7 linked regions of the Homo sapiens genome follow. The protein of the gene in region 5 interacts with the protein of the main gene of each other region in a pairwise test. Each region holds a gene or a part of one and is shown on either strand. Other genes may lie near its edges.

What was found.
Region 1: the proteins of BMP2K (region 5) and SCGB1C1 interact in a two-hybrid assay, tested with the Homo sapiens proteins (one large-scale study listed by IntAct).
Region 2: the proteins of BMP2K (region 5) and NECAB1 interact in a two-hybrid assay, tested with the Homo sapiens proteins (one large-scale study listed by IntAct).
Region 3: the proteins of BMP2K (region 5) and DAZAP1 interact in a two-hybrid assay, tested with the Homo sapiens proteins (one large-scale study listed by IntAct).
Region 4: the proteins of BMP2K (region 5) and GJD3 interact in a two-hybrid assay, tested with the Homo sapiens proteins (one large-scale study listed by IntAct).
Region 6: the proteins of BMP2K (region 5) and LYZL4 interact in a two-hybrid assay, tested with the Homo sapiens proteins (one large-scale study listed by IntAct).
Region 7: the proteins of BMP2K (region 5) and RABL2A interact in a two-hybrid assay, tested with the Homo sapiens proteins (one large-scale study listed by IntAct).

The regions. Positions count from the first base shown.
Region 1 is NC_000011.10:191,775-195,075, reverse strand, and holds SCGB1C1 (secretoglobin family 1C member 1 precursor), read right to left. Parts: upstream 1,977-3,301; coding exon 1,922-1,976; intron 1,365-1,921; coding exon 1,165-1,364; intron 659-1,164; coding exon 626-658; 3' UTR 501-625; downstream 1-500.
Region 2 is NC_000008.11:90,952,275-90,955,774, reverse strand, and holds part of NECAB1 (N-terminal EF-hand calcium-binding protein 1), read right to left. Parts: intron 1,832-3,500; exon of another isoform or gene 1,789-1,831; intron 289-1,788; coding exon 263-288; coding exon of another isoform or gene 207-262; 3' UTR 1-206.
Region 3 is NC_000019.10:1,421,086-1,424,585, reverse strand, and holds part of DAZAP1 (DAZ-associated protein 1), read right to left. Parts: intron 3,439-3,500; coding exon 3,328-3,438; intron 2,239-3,327; coding exon 2,190-2,238; intron 1,167-2,189; coding exon of another isoform or gene 1,075-1,166; exon of another isoform or gene 876-1,074; intron 1-875. UniProt on the Homo sapiens protein: RNA-binding protein, which may be required during spermatogenesis.
Region 4 is NC_000017.11:40,361,938-40,366,158, reverse strand, and holds the start of GJD3 (gap junction delta-3 protein), read left to right. Parts: upstream 1-1,421; 5' UTR 1,422-2,343; coding exon 2,344-3,228; 3' UTR 3,229-4,221. UniProt on the Homo sapiens protein: One gap junction consists of a cluster of closely packed pairs of transmembrane channels, the connexons, through which materials of low MW diffuse from one cell to a neighboring cell.
Region 5 is NC_000004.12:78,873,850-78,877,349, reverse strand, and holds part of BMP2K (BMP-2-inducible protein kinase), read right to left. Parts: intron 1-3,500. UniProt on the Homo sapiens protein: May be involved in osteoblast differentiation.
Region 6 is NC_000003.12:42,400,611-42,404,110, forward strand, and holds part of LYZL4 (lysozyme-like protein 4 precursor), read right to left. Parts: coding exon 3,436-3,500; intron 1-3,435. UniProt on the Homo sapiens protein: May be involved in fertilization. Has no detectable bacteriolytic and lysozyme activities in vitro.
Region 7 is NC_000002.12:113,637,266-113,640,578, reverse strand, and holds part of RABL2A (rab-like protein 2A), read right to left. Parts: intron 3,281-3,313; exon of another isoform or gene 1-3,280. UniProt on the Homo sapiens protein: Plays an essential role in male fertility, sperm intra-flagellar transport, and tail assembly.

The sequences.
Region 1 (3,301 bases), on a different chromosome or scaffold from region 5:
TGCCTGTGGTGTGCCTGCTCCTGTGTGGACCCTGTGTGTACCTCTGTGGGGACTTTCACACGTGTGTTCCTTGAGTGGGATCCTCTGTATGTGGGTCTGTGTGTGTGGCTGTGGCCCTGTGTTCCTGATGTCCCCATTTGTGTGTACCTCTGTGGGGACTTTCACACGTGTGTTCCTTGAGTGGGATCCTCTGTATGTGGGTCTGTGTGTGTGGCTGTGGCCCTGTGTTCCTGATGTCCCCATTTGTGTGTCCCTCTGTGGGGGACTTTCGCACGTGTGCTCCTTGAGTAGGATCCTCTGTATGTGGGTCTGTGTGTGTGGCTGTGGCCCTGTGTTCCTGATGTCCCCATTTGTGTGTCCCTCTGTGGGGACTTTCGCACGTGTGCTCCTTGAGTGGGATCCTCTGTATGTGGGTCTGTGTGTGTGGCTGTGGCCCCGAGTGTGTTCCTGATGTCCCCATTTGTGTGCCCCTCTGTGGGGGCAGAGACAGGAGCCTGAGCTGCGGAAGAGGCTTTATTGATTAAACGGTTTGAGGATACATTTCCATGTGGGAGGTGGTAGTGGGCGTTGTGTCCACGGCTGCTTGTGTGGCAGGTCCTATGGCTGAGCCATGTCTGAGGTCCACTTAGGCACCGTCCTGACTGCCCAGCACTTGCACCTGGAAGGCAGACACATGTGGACTAAGAGGGCTGTGCTCAATAAGTGGAGAGCCACAGCTCCATCAGGCAAGCAAGGCCCTCAGTGGGGGGGGGTCTGGCATATTGCTGCCTATCTCCTCCCAGCAGCTGGGAGGTGTGTGTGCACATGTGATGGTGTGCACACATGTATGTGTGTGCATATCCCAGTGTGAGCATGTGGGTGTGAACGTGTTTATACATGTGTGCACGCAGTGTACATTTCATGTCTGCACCTGTGTTTGGATCTCTGTGTATGTTCACATGTGTGCATGGAGGAGTATCCCACAGACTGGGGAGGAGGTCTATGGAGTCTGGGGGCTGCTCGGTGGACAGGAGGTCTGGGGTGTCCACCTGAGCTGGCTGATGCGGGTGCAATGTCTGTGGGTGGTGGATGTCTGTGGGTGGGGTAGGCTGTGTGGGTGCTGTGTTGGGTGGTCTTGGTAAGGCTGCAGATCTTTAGAAAATGGGGTGCCCGCCGCCCTCATACCAGCAGCTTGACCAGCTCCGCCTTGTGCATTGGCTGCAGGCCATCTATACAGGACTTGAGTTCAGTCATTGCTGCCTTGGCATCTTCGTTGACATTGTACTTGCCCAAGGTCCCCTCATAGAGCTCCTCTGGGGTCCCCACCAGTAGTGTTTGCAGGAAGTCCATGAAAAACTCATCGTTGTCCTCCCCTGTGGCCATCCCTGCATCACGAGCGAGATGATGCCAGGACAGGACAGGGTGACTCTGGTGCAACCACAGCCCTGGACCTGCCCCAGGGCTCCAACCTCCATGGTCTCCAGACCTTCCCCTTCAATGCCCACCTCTCCTCCCCAGGGCTTCCTCCACAACACCTCCAACTCCACCTTGCCCGAAGACCCCTCCACATCCCCCTTAATCTTAGCTGCTCCAATTTCCACTCAGCATTCCCTGGGATCACCAGGGAAGGAAAGTTAAGCTCCTGGTGTGGGGGAAATTTCCCCTGATGAGAGGCTATTATGACCAGAGGCTTGAAGGGTCAGGTCAGGCTGGACTGGGCTGGGGTAGGAGACACTGGGCTGGTGTTGGGTCAGCTGGGCTTTGTCCTTGGTTGGGGTGGAGTAGGGTGGGCGCGGGTTCTGCAGGGTCCTTGCCCACTTCTGTGACAGAAGCAGGTGGAGTGTTCACTGCAGAGGCCCGATGCCAGGATTTTACCTTCTCAGGTACCCCCCACTCCCCCCCACCCCTGAATGTTCTGGAAACCCCAGTGGCACAGACTCACGGCAGATGCAGAACAGGGTGAGGGCCACCAGCAGGAGGGCACGGCTCCCCTTCATGCCAGCAGTCTCAGGAGCTGCCTCCAGCCAGAATCCCGGGATTTTATGCCTCACCGGACAGCACCTCTCCTAGAGGGCGGACCGGACCTGCCCATTAGGACCCGGCAGCCAGCTTAGATGAGGTTTGTTCACATCCCTGGCCCCCAGTGGGTGCCAAGCAGCAACAGGCATGGAGTGGCTGTGTGACAGGTGGTTGGCAAGCGGCTTTAGGGTGTGTGAGAGAGAGAACAGGTGTGTTAGGAGGGAACACTGGTGAGAGGCCATGCCAACTGATCGGTGAAGAAGGCAGTGGGTCCTGGCCACCAAGGGCCTCTAGTCATGCCTGCCCTTGAGGCCGAGAGTGGTGGGATCTGGGGTTGGTCCCACGCCTTTCTTTTAAGGTGCGAATCCCTCCTCTTATCAGTGTGCTGTGTGATCTGGGTCTGCATCTGGGGGTCTCCAATCAGGCAGGGGCCCCTTACTACTCAGATGGGGTGGCCGAGTAGGGGAAGGGGGTGCAGGCTGCACGAGTGGACACAGCTGTAGGACTACCTGGGGGCTGTGGATCTATGGGGTGGGGAGAAGCCCAGTGACAGTGCCTAGAAGAGAGAAGGTGGCCTGAGAGGGTCTGAGGAACATAGAGCTGGCCATGTTGGGGCCAGGTCTCAGCAGGAAGTGAGGAATGGGACAGGCTTGAGGTACATCTTCCATCAGTAGCCAGGATAGCAAGGAGGGCTTGGGGTTGCTATCCTGGGGTTCAACCCCCCAGGTTGAAGGCCCTGGGGGAGATGGTCCCAGGACATATTACAATGGACACAGGAGGTTGGGACACCTGGAGTCACCAAACAAAACCATGCCAAGAGAGACCATGAGTAGGGGTGTCCCAGTCCAGCCCTCTGACTGAGCTGCATTGTTCAAATCCAAAGGGCCCCTGCTGCCACCTAGTGGCTGATGGCATCCACATGGCCCTGGGCCACACGCGTTTAGGGTCTCTGTGAAGACCAAGATCCTTGTTACATTGAACGACTCCTAAATGAGCAGAGATTTCCACCTATTCGAAACAATCACATAAAATCCCATCCTGGAAAAAGCCTGGGGGATGGCACTAAGGCTAGGGATAGGGTGGGATGAAGATTATAGTTACAGTAAGGGGTTTAGGGTTAGGGATCAACGTTGGTTAGGAGTCAGGGATACAGTAGGGTCACCGGTAAGGGTTAGGGGTTAGGGGTAGGGGTTAGGGTTAGGGTTAGGGTTAGGGGTTAGGGGTTAGGGTTAGGGTTAGGGTTAGGGTTAGGGGTTAGGGGTTAGGGTTAGGGTTAGGTTTTGGGGTGGCGTATTTTGGTCTT
Region 2 (3,500 bases), on a different chromosome or scaffold from region 5:
GTCACTAAAAGGTTTTAGGTGAGTTACAATGTAGCAAAGCATTTAGCATTAAATATTGAGAATATTAGTGAACTTTGAAAATTGAGCTAAAATTCACATGAATTGATAAAGTTATAGAATAAGTTTTGAAAGAGTGCACTTAGTAAATATACCAAACAAAAATATACAGTAGATTAACAACCGCAGATAATTTTCTAATTGACGTTTTAGATAAGAACACCTGTTTTGCACTTGGAACCATAAAGAAAATGTCTAGGAACATCTAGTTGTTCAGGATCCACCACGAAGCTGAAAAGAGAAAAATGTTTTCTAAAATAATGAAAATAACTTATAGGGCAAAGAACATTCAAGGTGCAAATTATTTCTAAAGAGACCATTCCCCTTACCTTTAGTCTGCATAATAACTTATCTTTCTAGTCACCATTTCCTGACTATTTGAGGCAAGATTGAACTCTTCCTATGCACTTGTTATTTGTACCATACCTTTTGGCACTTTGTTGCAGTCTAAAATTTTCTGTTCTATGTGAATAGAACTTGTTTTGGCAACAAGTTTATAAATGCACTGAAGACAGAATCATGCTATTGTTCTTATTAGAATCTACCCAACACTGGCAGTAGTTAGGCCATATATATATATATATATATATATATATATATATATAATTTATATACCCAATATTTATGAAATCCTATATGTAGAAATACCATATATTTATACATATGTACATACATGCACCTGCATTTATATATGTATATACATATATGCATATGTGTACATATACATACATATATGTACACACATAATATATACATATAATATGTATACATGTATGTATACATATAATACATATGCATTTGTATACACATACATATATGCATATGCATACACATAATATACATATATGCATATGTATACATATATTTATAAATATATGCAGCTTATGTATAATATATAATATACATATAAATACATGTGTGATTTATTATACATATATTTATACCTATATGATATTTATAAATACCATATATTTATACACATAGGATCTCATAAATATTGGGTATAAGCAAGTAGGTTATAAATAATATTTTAGTATATCTGTATGTTAAAATTATAAATGTTTATCCCAGTGAATATAGATATCCTGAAAACAAACCAATGGCAAAGATGTATGATTGGTGGAATGCTGTAAGAAACAGATAAATGGAAAGGATTGAAATTTGCTTTCAAAACTGTTCAAGTAATTTGCTGGCAATAGGATCTTTTTTTTTGTATCCTGTTTTCCCATAACCGTAGGTTTTTCTGTTATTACCAATGGACATTCTGCTCCACAGACCAAGTTTATATACTCCTTTTGTCTGGGTGGTTTGGGCTGCCATATTCCAGTATGCTTCATTTGAATGATTTTATACTTGAGAGGTCATTGGAATATATTATAGTGTATATTTTCATATCTGGATGCAATCTGGCTTAGTTGCTTAATTACTTTAGATGTATCTTAGGTAAACCACTTAGTAGTCTTAACCATAAAAAGCAATCTTACCAGAAATCATAATTTGTGAGTAAAATTAGAAATACAAACTTATTCATACTGCATTTTTAAATGTAATATCTGCTTTTTTTCTTTCAGATTTTAATTTTAGGTATAAATATGTGCAGCTATTTATTTATTTATTTATTTATTTATTTATTTATTTATTTATTTATTTTGAGACAGTCTCGTTCTGTCACCCAGGCTGGAGTGCACTGGCACGAACTCAGTTCACTGCAACCTCTGCCTCCCAGGTTCAAGTGAGTCTCCTGCATCAGCCTACCAAGTAGCTGGGATTACAGGTATGCACCACCATGCCTGGCTAATTTTTTGTATTTTTTAGTAAAGAGAGGATTTCACCATATTGGCCACTGGTCTCGATCTCCTGTCCTCAGGTCATCTGCCCACCTTCGCCTCCCAAAGTGCTGGGATTACAGGCGTGAGCCATAGCGCCCAGCTAATTATTTTTATTTTTAATCTTCATAACCATTATAACACAAAATGTACAAAACTGGTTTTTAAAAATAGTGTTAGAAGTTATATGGCCATTAAAACCCATAAATAATATTTATATGCTAGCTTCTGCTTACTGGAATAGGCCTGCTGTCACAGTGATAAAACTTTAAAATAAGGTGGGATGTCCCAATAAATGTCAAAATGTTGTAGGTTTTAAAATTGTGTCAAAAATCAAGCCTAACTTTTCCTCTTGTTCTACGAAATTCCAGTAATCATTGTTGAAATTAAATGTAACATGAAATTAATACAAAATAGGGCAGCAATTAAAAGACATTAAATTGTATTGAGCCTGGATTCACAGAACAAGAATTGATCCAGTTTTATCTGTAGTCAGTTTTTCTTTCTAAATTAGGAAATGCTCTGAGAGAGAAAGAGTAATATATGTGCCAATGACACTAGTAGTGTCTAGAAAATAATTCCAGATAATGATAAAGTTGGGTCAGAAAACTATCAGATTAGTCCACATTTTCAATTCTTGCTATAGCATTTTCCCCCTCACTGATAATTCAGTAGCCTCCTGTTCTATCCTCTTTTCCTACTCTATTTTTGATCAGGTTGTTTCTGTCCTGGAAAGACTCAAGACACTAATAAGAACAAGCTTTGTTCCTTTCTTTCCACATTGGTTTGGGAGAGATGGAAATGGGTGTGATGACAGACACAAAAATTACAAGTGTCAGGACTTCGTGGAAATTTTGACCGAAGACCAATATATTTATGATGATGCCAAAGTCCTATTCATTCCTTCATTTAGGAAATAATTTCTTCTTGCCATATACTGTACTATAGTAATACTGTAATAGGGTAGGGAATGTGAAGATAAATAAAATGTGGATCTCACTTTCCTGCATTCTATGTACAAAGCTTGCAGCAGTCATATTTACAGAAGTTGTATTCTAAGATTTTTCTCCCTATTTTATTTTATTTTATTTTAATTTTATTATTATTGTTTTTTGACATGGAGTCTCGCTCTGTCGCCCAGTCTGGAGTGCAGTGGTGCGATCTTGGCTCACTGCAACCCTCCGCCTCCTGGGTTCAAGCAATTCTCCTGCCTCAGCCTCCTGAGCAGCTAGGATTACAGGCATGCCCCACCATGCCCAGCTACTTTTTGTATTTTTAGTAGAGGTGGGGTTTCACCATGTTGGTCAGGCTGGTTTCGAGCTCCTGGCCTTGTGATCCGCCCACCTCAGCCTCCCAAAGTGCTGGGATTACAGGCGTGAGCCACCGCGCCCAGCCTTCCTCCCATTTATAACATCATAACACTATACATCCCCCACTCATCCCCAGGAGCACTGTATCTTTGCATTTTACTCTTTTGGTTTCCTTGATACTCCACTGCTTAAAGAAAGGCATCTCCCCAAGCTTCTCTTAGATATTTTGTTCTTACCTACATACTTTCTTACCAATCCCAGGCTTCAACAATCATCTTGCTGTGGTTAACTCCTGAAAATTACATCT
Region 3 (3,500 bases), on a different chromosome or scaffold from region 5:
AAGCTGAAGAGACAGGGGCCAGGGCTGCTGTAGCTGGGACCAGGCAGAAACAGGACAAGCAAAACTGGGGGCGGGGAAAGATGGAAACGGGGCAGAAAGGGCAGCTCAGACTGTGAGGGGACAAAGGTCACTGTGGTTCAGGAGCCTCCCACCGTCCTGAGCACACGTGTGCACCTGAGCGTGACTGTGCACGCAGTGTCTGCAACCAGACGGAGGGGGAGGGGGGAGGGGGAGGGGGAGGAGGAGGGGGAGGGGGAAGAGGAGGAGGAAGAGGAGGAGGGACCAGGAAGGCAAGGCACACAGCGAGAGGAGCGCAGGATGGAGAAGACCTGAGGGGACTGAGAGGCGAACGAGGCAGCGGCTGGAGCGGGCGGGCCGAGGGTAGACGTGGGAGGGCCAAGCAGGGACCCGCACAGACACTGTGTGCCCGAGACACAGGCGGGGTCCCTGACAGGGACATGGCCATGACCTTCAGTCAGTGGAGAGGAAGAGGGAGGAGGTGGCGGGGAGGGGGACACAGACCCGTCTCAGAAGATGCAGAAAGGCCAAGGGAAGGGGACACACTCTCTGGGAGGACCCGCTAAGCAGCGCCGCAGCGTCTCTCCGGCCCTCCACTCGCCTGACACCCAAGGGACACTTTCAAAGCCCAACAGCTAAGGACATGTGGCCACGTGCTGGCCCCGAAGTGCTCTGTACACCAGTGTGGACTCAGCGACACTCGCCACGTCCCGTCCACACGGGACAGGACAGGACGCGAGGAGAAGGGGCGCCAGCTCTGGGCAGCCGGAGGGGGACCGGGAGGATCTAGAAGCAACCCTCAGATTCCCGCGCGCTCAAGTTTCCCAAGATCAGAGGCAGTATTGGAACACAGCATCGGTGATGAAACAACGTATTTAGAAGTAGACATTTTCGCAAACTGCAGGAGTGTCTGAAACCACAGGGCTCGCCTGGTCCGGGCACAGTGCAAGAGGCGCTGGGTCCTGGGGGAGGCGCCCTGAGCGCTGTCTAGGAATGCGGCTGTCAAGAGGCGACATCACCACTGAGGAAGCGGGACAGAAACACCTGAAACTTCGTTTACACCCCACTGGAGCAAAGCCGCTCCCTCCTCTGACTGCGGGACTGGCCTGTACCTGTGTGATATAATTTAGCACCTGGAGAAGAGAAATCTAAAGAGATATCGTTAATCACACACAATTCACAGAGAGAAAAGGAAAAACAGCTTACTTAACATCACTGTACTTTACTATGAAACACTTAAGTACGTCACTAAGCATGTATGTCTAAATTAAGTTACGACTAAGACTTAACAGCGTAACCGACATGGAGGAGGAGCACTCCTAACCGTGGGGAGGGAGGTTCAAATGGCAAACTATGCTCCAGCATGGTGGGCATGCTGCGGCGCCACCTGGCGCTCGGGGCTGCCCCGACTGACCTGGGCCGGTGGTGCGGGGGCGGCACGGACGTGGCGGGCAGACCCAGGCTGCAGGTCTGCTCACGTGGCCGGCCAAAAGCAGCTGATGAACCAAAACCATGCGGGCGGGCGGGACAGACAGCAGCAGCCACGGAAAAGGGGCACAGAAACTGGGCGCCCATCGTCCCAGCTCCACAAACCAGCATGGATGGGTGTGCAAGAAGCTGAGGGAAAATGAGGGGAGGCCCTGAGGTGACTCCTCACCCCTCCTCCCACCTGCCCTGCTGACTTCAGAGAGGGGAGAAAACTGAAAAAAAAGAAAAAGAAAAGAAAAGGAAAAAAGAAAGAAAGAAAAAAAAAGCATGGGATGGATCACGGAAAATCCAAACTCCACACCGAGCCAGCTGACCCAGCTGACGACACGAAATGAGACCGGCCACACTGGGAGGACTGGATGAGGGTGAAGGAAGGTCAAATGCAGAAGGACCACACTCTTCCGGACAGTGAAAAACAGAAGCCAGGCCGAGACTCATGACAAGTCGTAAAAACTTCAAAAGAACAAGCCAAAAAACAATGTGTGACGTCTGACCTCGGGAAGCACAGACAGGCTGAATGGGGTGCACATGAGGAGCCCACGTTTTAGTCATTTGTCTCCAAATCGTCCCTTCCTGAGGCTGTTTGCTACAGCCGCCACCTGTGTGTGCCTGGCGGGTGAGATAGTTTGCCATCTGAGGGAGGAGCAGGGAGAAGGCCGAGGTCAAACTAGATCTGCCCTTACCTCGGGGCCTCTGCTTCTCGGCGTCATAGATCATGACTACCTCCGTGACCTGGAAGGAGAGGGTGGCGTCAGCACGGACACCAGGGCCAGCACCACAGGTGGTCTTCCGAGGGCACAGCCTGTTCCCACGAACCCAAACTCTCGCACAGGGTGCGCCCTCCCTGAGCGGGGGAGGTGCACGGGCAACAGCTGCTCCGTGGGGCTGCTGTCTGAGAAAGGCTGGAGCCCCAACACTCCCAGGGCCAGACGCAGGCAGGGAGAAGCAGCTCCAGGGCAGGCGTCTGGATACCCGCCTCCGGGCTGCCCGTGGCCCCGCTCACGTGTGTGCTGACGGACATGAAGGGCCAACAACGCCGACCACGCATCCTAGCAGGGGACGTGGGAGCCAGGAGACCCCACAGAAGCCCTTCCCACCCAAACGCGGGAAGCAAAGGGCACGCTCGGCCCTCACTCGAAGTGGCGGGGCAGCCACACACAGCTCCTCTGCAGACCCTGCTCTTCCAGGCCCCGCTCAGGCCTCTCATTCCTGGCCCAGGCCCGTGGCACCCTCAGGTACCACCTGATGAACGTGCGCAGTACTCAGGCACGCAGGGCTGTCCTGCTGGCGGGGCTCGGAGTGTGACCTGCGGGGCACGGCAGGAGTCCCAGCAGGACCTTGGGGTGACCACACGCCCCTGCCTTGGGTGACTAGGAGGGCTCCCCGCCGGCCCCCTCCGGCTGTCCCAGCTCCCTCTGGCACTGGGCTCAACGGAGCTCGGGCATTCTCCCACCTGCCCAGTGGAAAGTCAGCTCTGTGGGGCTGGCTCGCCCAGGCCACACTGAACCCCGTTTCTGTGTAACTGCCCTTCTCTGACACTGGACCCCACGGTGTTCACAATGGAATCGGGCGGCCGCCCTGAAGGCTGTCAGGCTGGTTCACCGCCCAACCACCCTACTGGGACACGAAATGGCCATGAAGGCAAAGGCCGGGCTTTCCACCTTTCCGGAGGGCGCAGGCGTTGGGGAAATACGAGACAGCGAGCTCCCAGCCTGAAAGGCCCGTGCACCTGTGGCTCGGCCACTCCAGCCCCAAGAAGGCCCAGGCCTGAGCAGAAGCGGCTCTGTCCCCACAGTGCTGCCGGGGTGGGGAGAAACTCACCACTCCGAACTTCTTGAAGTATTCCCTGAGCTCTGTCTCACCACAATTGTGAGGAATTCCACCGACAAATATCTTATTTGATTTACTGTTATCGCTCCTGGGTCCTTTCTGCTGTTGAAGAAGGGAAGGATAGTTAGTTCACACGGGAACCCTCCAAACCCTCCCGCGAGCTG
Region 4 (4,221 bases), on a different chromosome or scaffold from region 5:
TCCTATTTTTCACATTATAAAATAACATGAGGCCGGGCGCGGTGACTCAAGCCTGTAATCCCAGCACTTTGGGAGGCCGAGGCAGGTGGATCACCTGAGGTCAGGATTTCGAGACCAGCCTGACCAACATGGAGAGATCCTGTCTCTATTAAAAATACAAAATTAGCTGGGCATGGTGGCACATGCCTGTAATCCCAGCTATTCAGGAGGCTGAGGCAGGAGAATCGCTTGAACCCGGGAGGAGGAGGTTGCGGTGAGCTGAGATCACACCACTGCACTCCAGCCTGGGCAACAAGAGCAAAACTCTGTCTCAATAAATAAATAAATAAATAAATAATAAAATAACATGTTAGGCCGGGTGTGGTAGCTCACGCCTGTAATCCCGGCACTTTGGGAGGCTGAGATAGGCGGATTGTTTGAGGTCAAGAGTTCGAGATCAGCCTGGTCAACATGGCGAAACCCCACCTCTACTAAAAATACAAAAATTAGCCGGGCGTGGTGGCGCACACCTGTAATCCCAGCTACTGGGGAGGCTGAGGCAGGAGAATCGCTTGAACCCGGGAGGCGGAGGTTGCATTCAGCCAAGATCATGCCACTGCACTCCAGCCTGGGCGACAGAGCTAGACTCCATCTCAAAACAAACAAATTAAAAATAAATAAATAAATAACATGTTCATTATAGTAAAGCTGGAAATAACAGAAAAGTGGGAAGGAAACCAAAGATTTTATTTAACTATCAAAGCCAGGCACTTGGGATATTTTAATGGTTTTCCATATGGGATTTTTTTTTTTTTTTTTTTTTTTGCAGGCACAAGGGTTTTTTTGGTTCTCTGTAATATGGTTGGGAATTCAATATTAAGAAGTAGAGAATCCCAGCTACTCAGGAGGCTAAGGTGTGAGGATCACTTGAAGCCAGGAGTTCAAGATCGACCTGGGCTATGTAGAGAGACCCCGTTCCAAAAAAGATGTAAAGCTGGAAGGAAACTTGGGGGTCAGCTGGACTGGCCGCCTTTGTTGACAAGGCAGGAAAGCCTGGCTCAGTACCGCCGAATGATTTGTCCAAGGTGAGCGGTGGCAGAGCTGGAACCAGAAGCTGTTAGATGTTTGCTGCCCCTTAAACTCCAGCACCAAACCTCCCTCTGTCCCCGAAGACCATCTTCACAGGGCATGGTTAGTGCGTAGTGGATCTAGGCTCCAGACTGAGGGTCTGTCTGGGAAGGGCTTCTAGGAATCCCCCAGCTTCCTCGATAAAGGATGTGGCTCTGGTTACCCCCCTCCCCCATTTCCAGATGGAAATTTAGCTAAAGAGTGAGGGCCACAGAGCCCAGCAAGGGGCGTGGTCCGTGCCTGTTCCCAAGGGCGGAGCCAGCCAGCAGGGTCACCCTGTTCCTTTAAGAGAAGGGGGAGCGCTAGCCCCTCTCAGCCATCCTGTCCTGTCCTCCATCCTGGCCAAATCCGAAAGGGAAAATGAAAGAGGGAGCAGGAGGCGCCGGTCCCAGCCACCTCCCAAGGTCCCTGGCTCAGCTCTGACACCCCAGTCCCGGCCCCAGGGTGAGTGGGGTTGGGTGGCGGTTTAGGGGCACCAGGGGCGTGTGGGGACCTGTGTAAGTGTGGGGTGGGGAGGATCTCAGGAGATGTGGAGGCTGGAGGCACAGGAGGCCAGGGAGGAGGGAGAAGCCTGGCGTCGCACTCCCACCACGCTGGGGTAGGAGGGCAGGGACACCTCCGACAAAGGACCCTGTGAGAGTTATGAAAGCGGAGTTGCCTCTGTACCAGCCCCCCACCCTGAGAGGAGTTCACTGCAGTAAAAATGGTGAGAGAAATGGTGGGCCAAGAAAGGAGTGGTCTCGCTGCCTCTGCCACTCCCACTCCTCCCATGGGCACCAAATTGGGTCTAGCGTCTCGGGTTCGAGGCTCCACTCTTCCCACAGCATCCTTGACAGCTAAGGGCACCGCTGGGTTTCCGCTTCCGAAACCAGGCAAGTCAGGGGCTGGTCCAGCTGATCTCCAAGGTCCTTCCTAAGAATCTGGGATCTGGAGGATCCCAGGGTCGAACGGAGACGGCTCAGGGGGTGCGGCTAAAATGCAAATGGGGGATCCTCCCCAGCACCCATCGGTCCCAAAGAGAAGGTAACCCATAGCTGAGCGTCGCCTGCTCCCCTCGGGCCCTCCCGTGGCCCTCCGTTTCATACTGGTCTCATCGCTAAACCCGGGCCTCTCCTACCTCACGACTCACCCTGAAGTCAGAGAAGGTCCAACGGACCCCACCCCGATAGGCTTGGAAGGGGCAGGGGTCCCTGACTTGCCCCATCCCCTGACTCCCCGCCCCGCGTCCCCAGCGCCATGGGGGAGTGGGCGTTCCTGGGCTCGCTGCTGGACGCCGTGCAGCTGCAGTCGCCGCTCGTGGGCCGCCTCTGGCTGGTGGTCATGCTGATCTTCCGCATCCTGGTGCTGGCCACGGTGGGCGGCGCCGTGTTCGAGGACGAGCAAGAGGAGTTCGTGTGCAACACGCTGCAGCCGGGCTGTCGCCAGACCTGCTACGACCGCGCCTTCCCGGTCTCCCACTACCGCTTCTGGCTCTTCCACATCCTGCTGCTCTCGGCGCCCCCGGTGCTGTTCGTCGTCTACTCCATGCACCGGGCAGGCAAGGAGGCGGGCGGCGCTGAGGCGGCGGCGCAGTGCGCCCCCGGACTGCCCGAGGCCCAGTGCGCGCCGTGCGCCCTGCGCGCCCGCCGCGCGCGCCGCTGCTACCTGCTGAGCGTGGCGCTGCGCCTGCTGGCCGAGCTGACCTTCCTGGGCGGCCAGGCGCTGCTCTACGGCTTCCGCGTGGCCCCGCACTTCGCGTGCGCCGGTCCGCCCTGCCCGCACACGGTCGACTGCTTCGTGAGCCGGCCCACCGAGAAGACCGTCTTCGTGCTCTTCTATTTCGCGGTGGGGCTGCTGTCGGCGCTGCTCAGCGTAGCCGAGCTGGGCCACCTGCTCTGGAAGGGCCGCCCGCGCGCCGGGGAGCGTGACAACCGCTGCAACCGTGCACACGAAGAGGCGCAGAAGCTGCTCCCGCCGCCGCCGCCGCCACCTCCGCCACCGGCCCTGCCCTCCCGGCGCCCCGGCCCCGAGCCGTGCGCCCCGCCGGCCTATGCGCACCCGGCGCCGGCCAGCCTCCGCGAGTGCGGCAGCGGCCGCGGCAAGGCGTCACCGGCCACCGGCCGCCGAGATCTGGCCATCTAGGGGCGGGCACCGCCTCGCGCGGACTGGACGGCGAGGGCCGGACCCCGCCACCTCCGCCCGCACCGCAGAAGCCGGAAGCTGCTTCCACCAGAGCTGTCGCGGGACCTGCCCCGGCAGGAGACGCGTTGTGGGGACGGCCCGCGGGCGGCATCGCACTTGCCTCGTACTGCCTCCCAGTGGCTGCCGGCGGCACCTGGGGCAGGCCGGGCTGGGGGCGGAGAATGAACTCAGGCAGGTCCTGGATGCCACCACCCAGGTGGAAAGGAAGGAGACCAGGACCCTGAGAGAGAGTGGACCCGAGGGGGAGAACAGAGCGGAAGGTGGAGAGTGGTTGTTTTACTGGGGACAAAAACAACTGTGATGCCAGCATTCTCAGGCACTCTCTGTGTTCAGAGAGAGAGTGGTCCCCCTGTGGGCTCTCTGCGAGTGTGCATACACGGACACATAAGCACTGTGAGCTGTGTGCACGCGCACCTGTACACCCTGTGTGAGCGCTGTGCATGTGCGCGCATGTGTACACCCTGCGTGAGGCCCACTTGTGCACACAGACACACGTAACCCTCCCGGGTGAGCTGTGTGCACATGCACACAGAAACATATGCCCCTTGAGAGCTGTGTACTCACATCCCTGTGAGCTTTGTGTGAGTGCATTGTGCACACACGCACATGTCCATTCTGTGTGGGCTGCGTGTGCACACCTGTACACAGAAACATCCTTGTGCGCTATGTGTGCATGTGTACATCCGGCGTGACCTCTGTGTGTGCACGCGTGTGTGTGTGATCTCTGATATGCACTGCGGGGGTGGCCAGGATCCGATGCCAGCTGCAGCCACAATGGCTCCCTCCCTACCACCCTAACCCAGCCCACCTGCCAGGGCATCACAGGAGGTCTGTCCCCCCCTCCCAAGAGACCCCGCCCAGGGAGGGAAGAGGAGGAGAGGCTCCCTTTCCCCGGGCAGGCCTCAATCCTCGGGAGCCTATGAGCAACATCCT
Region 5 (3,500 bases):
TTGTACATGTTTGTGTTTTGTGTTATAACCAAAGAGTCAAAATGTTTTTAAATTTTCAAAGTTTATAAAGTAAAAAAGTCACAGTAAACTAAGGTTAATTTATTATTGAAGAAGAAAAAAATTTTATATAAATTTAGTGTGTTCTAAGAATGCAGTGTTTATAAAGTCAAGTCTATAATAGTGTACAGTAATGTCCTAGGCCTTCACGTTCACTCACGACTCACTCATTGACCCACCCAGAAAAACTTCCAGTCCTCTAAGCTCCATTCATGGTAAGTGCCCTATACAGATGTACCATTTTTAATCCTTTATACAATATTTTTATTTTACCTTTTCTATGTTTAGATACAAAAATACTTACCATTCTGTTACAATTGTCTATAGTACTAAATATAGTAACATGCTATACAGGTTTGTAGCGTAAGAGCAATAAGCTATATAATAAAGCCTAGATGTGTAGTAGGCTATACCATCTAAGTTTGTGTAAATGCACTCTATGATGTTCATACAACAATAAAATTGCCTAATGATGCAATTTCTTAGAACATGTCCCCATTGTTATGCAATGCATGACTGTATAGCATAAGAACGAGACAATGTAAGAAAGCTATTAAGTTCCTTTCATAATTCATATGCAAATCCTCTTAACAGTAGTAATGAAGGGAGAATCCTAATGTTCAAAGTAGTATCTCAATTTCACAAGTCTTAACTGATCCCCTAAATTTACCTAACCGTTGAGAGCTCATTGCCATTGCCACCAAACAGGTCTTAGAAGAGAAAAGAAAGGCAAAAGTCGTCTATTTAATCCCTTAGTCCAAGCCCCTTCAGCATATCTGAGCCAAGAATAGGATACTTAAATACTTACTGAAGGCTAGCATATAACAGAGGAAAATAAATAGTAAGTTACCTACAAGTAAATAGACTTGCTTAGTAAATAGAACTTAGGTATCTTAATTTAAAAAACAATTCAGTTTAAAGTCCATTCTGGATGCATTAACTGCCAGTCTGAGCCTGCCTCTGTGTGACAGAGTCCCATCTCTCCTTAAAACACAGATCAGATGTTTTTACCCAGAAAATTGAAGGAAAAAAAAAAACAGATCACAGTGGGTAAAACTCAAAGAGAGATGGGCATCCCCCCTCCTGTCTGTCAATCATTCCTTTTAGAACTTTCGGATTCCCTATATGAATCACCCTCTTCCTATTCCCAAAATAAATTTATGGATTCCTATTGGCAGACTGTAACTCAATAGGGTTATCACCTTAACCTAGTTTAAACAGGTATTAAAAAATGTCTACAAGTTATCTGACATTCCTCCCTTCGAAGGGTGAAACCGAATTTCACTGCCCTTGAACATGAGCTAGATCTAGTGACTCAATTCTAACAAATGAAATATGGCACAAGCAGCAGCCCATGACTGCTGAGACTAGGTCTAAAAAGACATTTCAGATTCCTCCTTGCTCTGTCTCTTGGATCACTTATTGAGGGAGAAACCAGAATCAATAATTCCTTGTTCAAAATAATTTTTGCCTTGGCAAAGAGAAAACTCAAGCAGTCTTTTGAAGAAATCCATGTGGCAGGGGACTGAAGCCTCCTGCCCAAAGCCATGTGAGTGAACTATCTTGTAAATTACATCCTTTATCACCAGCCAAGCCTTCAGAGGACAGCCGACCCAGCCTTACCAGACACAACCACCCTGTTAAGCCACCCCTAAATTTCTGATCCAAAGAAAGTATGTAAGATAATAAATGTTAACTGCTGTTTTAAACCATTAAGTTTTGAGATAATTTATTAGGCATCAACAGATAACTAATATAACAGGGCAATTATATCATAAGAAGATAACGTATGCATAGATGATGTTTATTTTAACTATTATTGGAATATAACACAGTAATACTCTCTGATATTCATACTAAAGATAAATTAACATGGTGGAAGAGTAGAAAGTTTAGCAAAAGATAGTAGAAAAGAAAAGGAAATAATTATTCCAACAAAGATAGTGACTCTTTCCCTCTGTCTAAGGAACTACTACTTGGTTTCTTATATTCTACTCAAATAGCCCTTATCCACTGAGAGACAAACATTTAACCCCAATTCTCTTCTTCCACTGACTTTGTCATAAGCAGGAACATTAGTTTAGAGCTCTTTTTAAATTGTTACAGAAGATACTATACTCAACATACAATCTGATGTTAAATAGGTATAATATTAATGAAGTAGCATTGACGTACCAAGTGTGGCTGGAGCAATGTTCCCACATGAAGTTCCACATTTCTAACCTTTAGTGGCTGAGTGTATAATTTTTTCTAACACATCCTTAAATACATAAATTTCATAGGAGTGGAGTAAAACAAGTCTTATGCACTTTCCCAGATATGCAACCCAATATTTCCTAACCTGGGGAATGCAAGATGATTTTTGTGATAACTTATTTTTTAATAGTTACACAGAAATTAAAAGAAAAGTGTCTAATGTATCAAACCTGTGATTTGTCGAATAGCATCACTACAAATGAGAATAAAGCAGACAGTGCTATAGTAATTAATATACATTACAGGCATCAGCACCTTGCATGCCAGTGTATGCCTCAAATCCTTGGATATCCAACTTTCTTTTTAACTAATCAGAAGTTTAGACAGATTTCCAATTCATCATCCCATTCTCAACAGTGACATAACTTTGCTTCCAGGAGCTGACAGACTTTTAGAATATGAAGTATACACAATATATATGCTACGTCAGAGAAGACAGTTAATATCTTTTCTATTTTCCAACTAAATAAACTAGATTTGACATTTTTTATGCTAGTTAGCATCAAAAGTGGAAAAAAGCAATCATCTAATTAGTACAATAGCCTCATCAGTATCTTTAAGCAATTATCAAGCAGAATATCTGATTTTTAATGAGGAAAATTATTCCATTCTTATCACTAGGGGACTTAGCAAATTTATTAGATTACTATTTACATTTCATACTTTATATTTTAGTGGATCTTATTTGTTTAAAATGTATAATATGTTTTAATTTTATTATACACAATAATGTTACTAATTTATTAAAGAAAAAAGCACTATGTGAATAAAGCAAAAAATTTTAACTAGAGTAGATAAATGACAAAGAGTTCGGCAAATACTGATCTGAACTTTTTGTGTGTGTGTGTGTGTGTGTGTGTGAGATGGAGTCTCGCTCTGTTGCCAGGCTGGAGTGCAGTGGCATGATCTCAGCTCGCTGCAATCTCTGCCTCCCAAGTTCAAGCCATTCTCCTGCCTCAGCCTCCCAAGTAGCTGGGATTACAGGCGCGCACCACCACACCTAGATAATTTTTATATTTTTAGTAGAGATGAGGTTTCACCATGTTGGCTAGGATGGTCTTGATCTCCTGACCTCGTGATCCGCCTGCCCTGGTCACCCAAAGTGCTTGGATTACAGGCATGAGCCACCGCACCCTGCCTGATCTGGACCTTTAAACTGGCCTTTGACCTATACTCTGCTCTCTCCT
Region 6 (3,500 bases), on a different chromosome or scaffold from region 5:
AGCTTTGGGGGCATAATACATTGGTTACAAAATAAAGCCTAGTTTCAGAAATACTAAGATCTGAAAAATTGTGCCATCTGGGACTTAGGAAATATGACACTCTTTCTAGATCTATCTGGAGATTACAATGTCCAGAATCAACCAGGCAGGTAATTATAAAATGTGGGACGGGGGGAGAAAAGGTAGGGGAAGAAGGAAGTTTGTGGTGGTGCAGAGTTCACTGGGTAGTGTAGGCCTGCCATCATAAACAGCGTGGATGGAGATGGTAGCAGTGTAAGCTGGAAATGGAGGATTTTCATGCACTCCATTGGTTCAGCATATCAGAAAGACACTCACACCAGCAAAATCTACAAACTGGAAACTAGGCCAAGAGATGTGCACACCAATCTACCCCCAAGTAGACGTCAGAGAAAAGGGTCTGGCCATAATCCAAGTAACAGTGAACAGAGACAAGAAAAAGCCACACAACCTGTCCATTTAGCAAATACTGAATATGGGTAACTCTGTCCTTATTCAAGGAAGGGTAAAGAGGATAAAGCTAACACGGGACCTATGCGGAAATATCACAAAAAGAAAAGGGGGCATCATAATAAAATTTCTTTATTAATATTTTTTTTTGAGACAGAGTCTCGCTCTGTTGCCCAGGCTGGAGTACAGTCACACAATCTTAGCTCACTGGAACCTCCACCTCCCAGGTTCAAGCGATTCTCCTACATCAGCCTCCCGAGTGGCTGGGATTACAGACACATGCCACCACGCCCGGCTAATTTTTGCATTTTTTTTTTAGTAGAGATGGGGTTTCGCCATGTTGGCTAGGCTGGTCTTGAACTCCTGACCTCAGGTGATGCACCCACCTCAGCCTCCCAAAGTGCTGGGGATTATAGGCATGAGCCACCGCTCCCAGCACATCATAATAAAATTTATTATGAAAATAACATACTGCAGGATCCAGAAGTAAATTTTATAAAACTGACATCCTCAATAAGATGTCACCAGATATGACCTTTGGAAAAGTCATGGGAGTTAAGAGAGATTAAAAAAAGACAATAGTTTGAATTTTTAAGTCAGGTGGATAAGCTAACACAGAATTGCAAAAAAATAAAGGTAACCAAAATTCAACACCCATTCATGATTTAAAAAAAAACTTTAACAAACTAGAGATGGAAAGGAACACAATCTGATTAAGAGTATCTCCAGAAATTTAAAACATCAGATGTAATGACACAATATTAAACTTCTTTACCTATGAGACTAGAAATGAGACAAGGCTGCCACTATTGTCACTTCTATTCAACCTTCACTGGAGATCCTAGCCAATGCAACAGGGAAAGAAAAAGAAAGAAAGGATATTGCAGAGCCAAATGTGAAAGATAAAACAATAAAGCTTTTAGGAAAAAAAGGAGAATATCCTCAAGACCAAGGAATAGGCAGATATTTGTTAAAATAACCATAAAGGGAAAGCAATAATAAATTAGACTACATTGTGACTAAGAACTTCTGTTTATCAAGACACTCTTGAGAAGGTTAAAAAAAAAAAAAAAAAAAAAGAGCCAGGCATGGTGACATGTGCCTGTTGTCCTCACTACTCGGGAGGCTGAGGCAGGAGGATCACTTGAGCCCAGGAGTTCCAGGCTACAGTGAGCTATGATAATGCCACTGCACTCTAGCCAGGGTGACAGAGCAAGGCCCCATTTCTTTTCTTTTCTTTCTTTTTTTTTTTTTGAGATGTCTCTTATAAAAAAAAGATAGAAAGGTAACTCACAGAATGAAAGATAGTTGCAATACATATATCCAACAAAAAAACTTTATCCAGAATATATAAATATCTCCTACAAATTAATAAGAAAAAGACAGCACAATAGAAAAATTGACAAAAGATTTGAAGAGGCACTTCACCAAAGGGGATACATAAATGGCCAATAAACATTTGAAACCTCATCAGGGAAATGCAGAGTAAAACCATAATGCAATACCACAACACAGTCATGAGAATAAACTGGAAATTACCAAGCGTGGTTGAGAATGTGAAGCAACTGAAATGCATAATTTCTGATGGCAGTGTACATTGATAAAAATCTCTTTAGAAAACTGTTTGACACAATATGCCAAATCTGAAAATATGCTTATCCTATGACTAGCAATTTTATTCCTCAGTAAAAACAACAGAAATCCTTTTACATATTCACCAAAAGTTAAGTATAGACTGTCCATGGCAGCACTAAAAATGAAGAAACTACCAAATGCCCACAAATAGAGGAATGCATAAGTAACCTGCGGTGAATCCACACAATGGAATACTGTATAGCAATGAGAATGAATCACAACCACACACAAAAACATAAGCAAATGCAACACTCAGTGAAAGAAGTCAGACATAGGCCAACCACTTGTAAATTTTAGACTCTTCTAAGCAAATATCTGGCTAAAGAGGAAACTAGATTTGCATTTATTTTGGCAATAAATATACAAAAATCAGTTAATGTACCAAATACACAAAGAGCTCTTTCAAATAATATAACTTGAATTTTAAAATAGGCAAAGAGCAAAGAAGAAAAAAATTACAAAACAATAGTAATATATAACAAACATGGGGGGAAACACCCGAATGGGATATGATAAAAGACAAAAGAAGATAAGACAAAATTATTATCCACCTTTTTTTTTTTTGAGATGGAGTCTCACTCTTTTGCCCAGGCTGGAATGCAATGGTGTGATCTTAGCTCACTACAACCTCTGCCTTGTGTGTTCAAGCGATTCTCCTGTCTCAGCCTCCCGAGTTGCTGGGACTACAGGCACACACCACCACACCCGACTTATTTTATTTTATTTATTTATTTATTTTTTTAGTAGAGACGAGGTTTTGCCATGTTGGTCAGACTGGTTTCGAACTCCTGACCTCAGGTGATCCAACTACCTCAGCCTCCCAAAGTGCTAGGATTACAGGTGTGAGCCACCATGCCCAGCCAGTTATTCACCTTTAAATCGCAAAAATGTTGTGATTGGTGAAGGTGCAGTAAATCTACATTTTACTAAACCTTTTGTAGAAATATAAACAAATATGGGCCTGCTGGATTTCACAACATGCATCAAGAACCTTAAACGTATTCAAAAACCTTGTAGGAACTTAAAGGATAGAAATAATCAGAGATTATCATAATAAACACAGATTTAGTTTGAAGATGTTCATCCTAGCTTTCTATATAACCCTAAACAAGATTTGGGGGAAAAAAAGTACAATTCAAGGCAATTTCTCTGATAATTATTTCCTTCCCTCTGTGGCCTTGAGGTTGTGGTTTTCTGCTACTTACCTTGGTGAGTCAGAGCCTTTTAGTTTTGGCACTGCACGTGCGCAACAGCCAAGATTTAGCCAAGATTCAGATTAGAGATCATGAGTGAAAGTCGTTAATACAGGCTACATAAAAATGTAAGACTTACCATGCTCCCATCCCTTCTTTTCCTTTTACAATGGTCTTGGCACATTTAATTGTCTTCTCTAAATT
Region 7 (3,313 bases), on a different chromosome or scaffold from region 5:
ATGGTGAAATTCCGTCTCTACTAAAAATGCAAAAAATTAGCTGGGCGTGGTGGCGCATGCCGGTAATCTCAGCTACTTGGGAGGCTGAGGCAGGAGAATTGCTTGAACTAGGGAGACAGAGGTTGCAGTGAGCCCAGATCATGCCATTGCACTCCAGCCTGGGCAACAAGAGCAAAACTCTGTCTGAAATAAACAAATAAATAACGTATTCCTTTTTTGTTATCTTGTCATCTAATCTTATTCACCTATTTTAACAATCATAAATGGAATCAATTTGCCAATTGATGCAGTCTGTTAGAAATTGTAAAAACTTTTGTGTTTTTTAGTCCTCTTGTATTTATTGCTTAAACTGTTTTAAAGTTCCTCTGTAGTAACTGTAAATGTTTCTAGAGTTTTACTTTAGTTACTATTTACTTTTATTTATTTACTTTTTAGAGACAGGGTTTCACTGTCACCCAGGCTAGAATGCAGTGGCTCAATCACAGCTCACTGTAACCTCAAAACTCCTGGGCTCAAGGAATCCTCCTACCTCAGCCTCCCAAGTAGCACGCACGCATTAATTTTTATTTTTTTATTATTTTTTTTTTTGTAGAGGCAGGCTCTCCCTATGTTACCCAGGCTCATCTCAAACTCTTGGCCTGAAGGGATCCTCCCACCTGGGCCTCTAAAGGTGCTGGGGTTACAGGTGTTAGCCATCACAACTGCCCGATTTTTTTTTTTTTTTAGACGGAGTCTCACTCTGTTACCCAGGCTGGAGTGTGGTGGCATAATCTCAGCTCACTGCAACCTTTGCCTTCTGTGTTCAAGTGATTCTCTTGTCTCAGCCTCCTCAGTAGCTGGGACTACAGGTGTGCGCCACCATGCCTGGCTAATTTTTTTATTTTTAGTAGAGACAGGGTTTTGCCGTGTTGGCCAGGCTGGTCTCGAACTCTTGATCTCAAGGGATCTCCATATATGGAGTCTTGCTCTGTTGCCCAGGCTGGAGTGCAGTGGCGCTATCTTGGCTCACTGCCACTGCAACCTCCACTTCCTAGGTTCAAGCGATTCTCTTGTCTCAGCCTCCGGAGTAGCTGGGATTACAGGTGCGCACCACCATGCCTGGCTAATTTTTGTAGTTTTAGTAGAGACAGGGTTTCATCATGTTGGCCAGGCTGGTCTCAAACTCTTGACCTGCAGTAATCTGCCTGCCTAGGCCTCCCAAAGTACTGGGATTACAGGCATGAGCTACTGCACCTGGCTGATTTACTTTTAAGCTTTTGTTTACTTCTTTGTTCTTTCTGCTTTTTGTTTTTTGAGATAGGGTCTTACTCTGTCAGCCAGGCTGGAGTGCAGTGGCAGAATCTTGGCTTACTGCTCCTCCACCCCCTGGGCTCCAGTGATCCTCCTACCTCAGCCTCCTGAGTAGCTGGAACTACAGGCACATGCCACCATGCCTGGCTAATTTTGTTTATTTTTTGTAGAGATGATAAGCTCTCATTATATTAACGAGGCTGGTCTTGGACTCCCGGGCTCAAGTGATCCTCCTGCCTCGGCCTCCCAAATTTCTGGGATTACAGGCATAAGCCACTGTGCCCGGCCTCTTTAAATTTTTTTAAAGTAATTTTTATGTTTTATTATTTGCAGTTCATAATTGTATTACTTTATAATTTGTTTTTACCTATTTTATTTTTATTTATTTATTTATTTTGAGATGGAGTCTTGCTCTGTTGCCCAGGCTAGAGTGCAGTGGCGGTATCTTGGCTCACTGCCACTGCAACCTCCACCTCCTGGGTTCAAACGATTCTCCTGTCTTCAAACGATTCTCCTGTCTCAGCCTCCTGAGTAGCTGGATTACAGGTGCGCGCCACCACGCCTGGCTAATTTTTGTATTTCTAGTAGAGACGGGGTTTCAACATGTTGGTCAGGCTGGTCTCGAACTCCTGACCTCAGGTGATCTGCCCACCTAGGCCTCCCAAAGTACTGGGATTAAAGGCATGAGTCACCGCGCCCAGCCTGTTTCTACCTATTTTAAAATATCAGCAAGAAGGATGAGCACTGCAAACCAGCTCTAAGGGCAGAACTCTGAAAGACAACTGAGCTGCTGCTACAGTGAGCCTTCATGCCCTTCACAGGAGCTCCTCCAAAGTGTCTAGCCCAAACTGCCCTAGTACAACAGTCAGTGGATTAAAGTTACAGACAACCACCACCCTGTAACTGCTGGCACAGCTGACCTCACTTCTAAATCACCCAGCTATTTGTGCAAGCAACATGGTTCAAGCTCAGGGCTAGGGGCTCGCCCTGTGTGGTGGCGGGAGGGTCAGCAACTGTCACATCTCAAGAGGTGGCAGGAAGTCTATGTAGATTCTCTTTCACAGGCAAATTTCAATGAATCACCAGGTTGTCTTGAATTCCCGATGAAGTCTCCTTATAAAGGATGTCTGTAACTAAACTTCTGGAATCTGCCTCACACCAGGCTCAGATGACTTTTGTCCAGATCTGGTTTCCTGAGCATCTGTTCCTTGTTTTGAGAGCTGAGGAGGAACTGGCTAGAATGAGGAGCATCCCCATCTCAAGGTTTCAAGGTGGAGGGTCGAGCCCTGGTTCCGTCTCTGACCCTCAGCTCCCCGTGTGGTCAGAAGGCAAGTGCTTTCTACTTGCCAGGGCCCGTGCAGCAGACTGGGGCTGGTGGCAGGCACCTGCAGACACAGGCATGGTGGCAGGAGAGACACCCCAGGCCTTCAGAAGAGGGTCTGAGGGGAGCCCACGGAGATGCAGCAGATGCAGGAAGCAGTCACTCCAAGAGAAAAAGAGAGGTGAGCTCAAAATACCAAATGCCACTGTAGGCCTGAAACCAAACTGGCTAGGACCAAGCTCCTCTGCTCTTGAGGGTCAGACTTCTGCACTACACTGCCCCCATTTTCCTTGCCCCATTATCCTCTTGTTTAGTACCTTAACAGTTATCAGAGTTAAAGCTTTTGGAATTTTTCAAGGGATTTTGTTCTTAACGGGCAGTCGGGGGAATTAGGTGACGAGTTCCTTCCTTTACCATCTGCAAAGGGTCAGAAGGGAAGAATCCTCACTGTCCTCACCACTGGTATCTGTACTGTGCCTACCAGTCAGTCAGTTCCTGGGGGCAGCACGTGTGTCTTTCCACCTGGGCATTCCCAGCATCCTGCACACGTGCATCACAGACAGTCCATGTTGTGGAAGGGATCAGTGGTGCAGGAGCACACACGGAAGAGCTAAGCTAATGACAAACATCAGAGGAGGCTGCACGGAGGTGGTGGCATTGAAGCAGGGCCTGAAAAATGAGCAGAGTTTCAAATAAAGGGGT